Regions from separate parts of the Homo sapiens genome. Here region 2 is linked to region 1. A link means that fine-mapping ties the variant in region 1 to the expression of a gene that starts in the linked region. Tissue or cell type: whole blood. Region 1 holds a variant in brackets; the other region holds the start of a gene. All regions are shown on one strand. Distances are between the middles of the regions.

Region 1 (2,761 bases):
CCTGAAAAAGAAACACCATACCTATTAGCAGTCACTCCTCCAGGCCTTGGCAACCCATAGTTTACTTTCTGCCTCTATGGATATGCCTATTCTAGACACTTCATATAAATGGAATCAGAAAATATATGAACTTTTATGACTGGCTTCTTTCACTTGTGTATTTTCAAGATTTATCTATGTTGTAGCATGTTCAGTCGGCCCTCTGTACCTGTGGGTTCCACATCCATGGATTCAACCAACTGAGGATCAAAAATATTCAGAAAAGGCAGGGCACGGTGGCTCATGCCTGTAATCCCAGCACTTTGGGAGGCCAAGGCAGGCAGATCACTTGAGCCCAGGAGTTCAAGACCAGCCTGGGCAACATGGCAAAACCCTATCTCTACCAAAAATACAAAAATTAGCCAGGTGTGGTGGCATGCACCTGTAGTCCCTGCTATTCAGGAGGCTGAGGTAGAAGGATTGCTTGAGCCTGGGGGGCGGAGGTTGCAGTGAGCTAAGATCAGCCACTACACTCCAGCCTGGGTGACAGAGTGAGACCCCTTCTCAAAAAAAAAAAAAAGAGGATGATTGTGTCTGCTCTCAACATGTGCACACTTTTTAATCTTATTATTCCCCTAAACAATACAGTATGACAACTATTTACACAGCATTTACATTGTATCAAGCATTATAAGTAATCTAGGGATTATTTAATATATAAAGAGTATGTTTGTAGATTATATGCAAATACTACACTATTTTCTGTAAGGGACTTGAACATATGTGGATTTTGATAGCCACAGGAGGGTCTTGGAAGCAATCTTCCACAGATATGGAGGGACAACTGTATCAGTACTTCATCCTTTCTTATGGCTGAATAATATTCCATTGTATGAATGCTACATTTTATCGGTTCATCCATTTGTAGACATGGAGGTTGTTTCCACATTGGGGCTATAGTGAATAATGCTGCTATGAATATCTGTGGAAAAGTTTTTGTGTGAACAT[ATG/G]TTTTCAGTTCTCTTGGGTATATGCATATGAGTGAAATTACTGAGTCATATAGTGGTAACTCTTAAGTTCAGCTTTTTGTATAACTGCCGAACTGTTTGGATATTACCATTTTACCTTTGCACCAGGGATGTGTGAAGGTCCAATTTCTCCACATCCTTCACAACATTTGTTATTGTCCCTCTCTTTGACAATAGTCGTCCTACTAGGTGTGAGGTGGAATGTTCTTGTGGTTTTCATTTGTAATTTATTAATGACTAATAATGTTGAGCATCTTTTCATGTATATCATCTTTGGAGAAATGTCAGTTCAAATCCTTGGTTCATTTTTTAATTGGATTTTTTAATCTTTTTTCTTGGTTTGTAAGAGTTCTTTATACATGCTAGATATTACATGCTTCTTGGATATGTGATTTGCAAATATTTTCTCCCATTCTGTGGGTTTTCTTTTAACTTTCTTTATACTCTATTGAAACACGAAAGTTTTAAATTTTGATGAAGTCCAATTTGTGTATTTTTTCTGCTTTGTCTTTGGTTGCTTGTACCTTAGGTGTACATCTAAGAAACCATTCCCTAATCCAAAGTCACAAAGAGTTACAGTGTGTTTTCTTCTAAGAATTGTATAGTTTTAGCTTTTAGATTTAGGTCTCTTTCCATTTTGAGTAAAAGTTTATACATGGTATGATGTAGGAGTTCATATTCATTCTTCTGCATGTGGATATCCATTTATCCAAACATTGTTTGTTAAAAAGACTACTCTTTCCCCATTGAATTTTCTTGACACCCCATTGAATAGTCTTGGCACCCTTGTCAAAAATTATTTGGCTATAGAGCCAGGCATGCATCTGTAGTACCAGCTGCCCAGGAGTCTGAGGCAGGAGGATTGCTTGAACCCAGGAGTTTGAGTCCAGCCCGGGAAACATATTAAGACACCATCTCATTTTTAAGAAGTAATTGACTGTAGATGTATGGGTTCATTTCTGGACTCTCAATTCCATTCCACTAATGTATATGCCCGTCCTTATGTGAAATACACAGTCTTGATTACTGTAGCTTTGTTGTAAGTTTTGAAATCAGGAAGTTTGAGCCCTCTTTGTTTTTCTTTTTCAGGATTGTTTTCTCTATTCTGGGCCTCTTGCATTTCCATATGAATTTTATGATCATCTTGCCTATTTCTGCAAAAATGGCAGCTGGAATTTTTATAGGGATTGCATTGAATCTGTAGGTTACTTTGGGTAGTATTGTCATCTTAACAGTATTAAGTTTTCCTGTCCATGAACACAAGATGTCTTTCCATTTATTTCGGTCTTTAATTTCTTTCCATGATGTCTTGTAGTTTTCAGTTATGCAAGTCTTACACTTTTTTGTTAAATTTATTCCTAAATATTTTACTCTTTTTCATGCTTTTTTCAATGGAACTGGGTTTTTAATTTTATTTTTTGATTGTTCATTTCTGTTATAGATATAAAACTGATTTTTGTATATTGCCTTAACTGTTTATTAGCCCTAATTTTTTGTGGCTTCTGCAAATAGAGATAGTTTTACTTTTTCCTATATAATCTCAATGCCTTTTATTTCTTTTGTTGCCTAATTGCTGTGTTTACAACAGCTAGTACAGTGCTGAATAGAAGTGGTGAGAACATGCATCCTTGCCTTTTATTTGTTTTTTATCTTTTATTTTTAATTTTTGTGGATACATAGTAGGTATATATATTTATGGGTTACATGAGATATTTTGTTACAGGCATGCAATGCATAATGATCACATCAGGGTA
Region 2 (2,631 bases), 120 kb after region 1:
TTTGGCCAAGTGTCTGGATGAGCCCATCCCCTTGGGCAGCAACAAAAGGTAAAGGGTCTCTGTGAGGCTTTCAGATTCCAAAAAAAAGCAACCGCTGGAGTGGAGTGTGATGGTCAAAGCAGCCACCTTAAGCTTTCTCCTTTCTTTCCCACTAGAGGGCTGAGAAAAGTCTTCTTCCTTGCGTTGTATTTCATTTGGCAAATATTTACCGCTTTGTATTGTGTGCAAACTTTACCAGGTTTTCTGGGAAGAGAAGTCGTGGGGAGCTCTCAGTTTGTTAATAAATATTAATACTTTTGGCCAAATTTTGAATTTTTTATGTCACTTGTTTTATTTCATTTTTGAAAAACAGCACTTTATTTCATTTAACTCTAGCATATTCAATGGCTGTGCATTTAATAATACTGAAATAAAGTCGCACCCAAAATGTTAGCAAAAAAATGGAAACTATATATGGTAGTGACCTCTACAAATGTTTTAAGCTTGAAAAATTCTGCACGAACGCAGACACAGGTTAGTCTGCCAAAGTTACTCAGATAAAAATTTCTCCAACCCTCAAGTCATAATCATAGTTGAGAAATGAATAAATGTGCCTTATGGCACCTCCAAACTTTTTGAGATTTTTATATAAACTAGCCTATACTTCTCTCCTTACGATTAGCATATGGGGTAGCTATTTTTCTTTAACAGAGATTCTTCAAATGTAGCTAGGGTTAAGAGAAACGCTGGCGCTGCCTCTCAGGAAGCTGGAGAAGCAAAAGAAAAAATTAAGAGTTAAGGGCCGCCGGGCTCGGTGGCTCACGCCTGCAATCGCAGCAATTTGGGAAGCCGAGGCGAGCGGATCACGAGATCAGGAGATCGAGACCAGCCTGATCAACATGGTGAAACCCCTTCTCTACTAAAAATACAAAAATAGCCGGGCGTGGTGGAGCGCGCCTGTAATCCCAGCTACTCGGGAGGCTGAGGCAAGAGAATCGCTTGAACCCGGGAGGCGGAGGTTGCAGTGAGCCGAGATCGCGCCACCGCACTCCAGCCGGGGCGACAGAGTGAGACTCCGTCTCAAAAAGAAAAAAAACAAGAGTTAAGGGCCAAGTCAATCCAACCGCGGCCGGCGACTGGAGGCTGAGCATGGCTGGCGATCTGGGGCTGCAGATCACGGCGCAAACCCGCTCACCTCCACCCCTCCCGCGCGGCCGCCGGCGCGCGCCCGTGGCGTCACGGCGTCGGGGTGGAGCCGGCGGCAGGGGCCAGGCCTCTCTAGGCTCTCCGGCTGAGCCGGGTTGGGGCCCGGGTTGGGCCGCCCGGGGACTCTGGAGCATTGGGATTTGTAGCGCGCCCTCTGGGTAGGCGGCTGTAGCGGAGAGGCGTGCGGGATCGGGATGTCGGGGCTGCTCACGGACCCGGAGCAGAGAGCGCAGGAGCCGCGGTACCCCGGCTTCGTGCTGGGGCTGGATGTGGGCAGTTCTGTGATCCGCTGCCACGTCTATGACCGGGCGGCGCGGGTCTGCGGCTCCAGCGTGCAGAAGGTGACTTGGGGGCGGGCGTGGGGCGCGGGTCTGACTGGGTTTCGCTGAGTCCCGGGGTCCGGCCTCGGGAGGCGAGCGGGCAGGCCCCACCTACCGCCCTGGACGCGGCCACCTGCAGCACCCGCGGGCCCTGGGGCCAGAACGGCGCGCCCAGACCGGCTGAGTCTTCGCGTTCCCTCCCTCGTCTGGGCTGAATCCCGCGCGCCCTTCCTGTCCAGGCTGAGGGTGCCAGGGGCCCGGTGTATGACCTGGGCCGCTCGCTTGCCTCTTGCCACCTGGGGAGCCACCTGTCCGGCCTTACCTGGATGGGACTGAGGTGACTCGCCGGACGGGACTGGGCAGGCTGTGCACATCCAGCCAGAGGGTGGTTTGTGAGTTGCTTGGTTCTTCCTGCACTTCCCTGATAGATCTCCCACCACATCTTTATTTACATTTTAATTTTTCAAAACTTTTTTTCTTTTTTCTTTATTATAGCCTTTGGACTTGTGCCTCAATAACTTTTCATATCTTTGTAGAATTTAAGTTTATTCTCTATTCTTCACTTGTCATCTTTATTAACTACTACTCCACAAAATGCTGGTTCCTTACGTGAGCAACTGATTGCCGTGGATATTAGAGGTATTGGGCAAGTTTTGAAGGCTGTGTGGTCATCAGTTTTCTATTTTCCATCTTTGAGAATTCATAAAATTCTTTATTTCCCCTCGTTTGAGAGACCTGCCAAATCATTGGTTGGTTGTTAGTAAAGCCTTGAATTGTTGATAATATTGGTCAGCAACCAACAAATTGATATCCTTCTGTTCTCATATTAATGAAGTGTTGATTTATACACAATTGTCAATGCACCAAAAATAATATTTATTTGTTATGGTGTTCTTATTGTTGTTCCTTTTTTTCTTTTGAGACAGGGTCTCACTTTGTCACCCAGGCTGGAGTGCAGTGCTGTGATCTCGGCTCACTGCAGCTTTGACCTCCTGGGCTCAAGTGATCCTTCCACCTCAGCCCCCCAAGTAGCTGGGACTACAGGCAAGGGGCCACCATGCCTGGCTAAATTTGTTTGTATTTTTTAATAGAGATGGGATTTTGCCATGTTGCCCAGGCTGGTCTG

The links. PIP is the estimated chance that this variant, and not a neighbour inherited with it, causes the effect.
Region 2: GK5 starts here. The variant in region 1 is fine-mapped to the expression of GK5 in whole blood (TOPMed, PIP above 0.99).

The regions. Positions count from the first base shown.
Region 1 is chr3:142,344,284-142,347,044 of GRCh38, reverse strand. The region is part of intron 33 of XRN1 (5'-3' exoribonuclease 1); the gene reads left to right. Among named protein-coding and RNA genes, the nearest start is that of XRN1, 100 kb to the left of the region's middle. The variant ATG/G (reference allele first, on the strand shown) is at 988.
Region 2 is chr3:142,224,204-142,226,834 of GRCh38, reverse strand. GK5 (glycerol kinase 5) reads left to right here and starts at 1,250. Exons shown (of 16, transcript NM_001039547.3): 1 at 1,250-1,526. The coding sequence starts at 1,380. RefSeq lists silencers at 1,067-1,306, 1,497-1,716.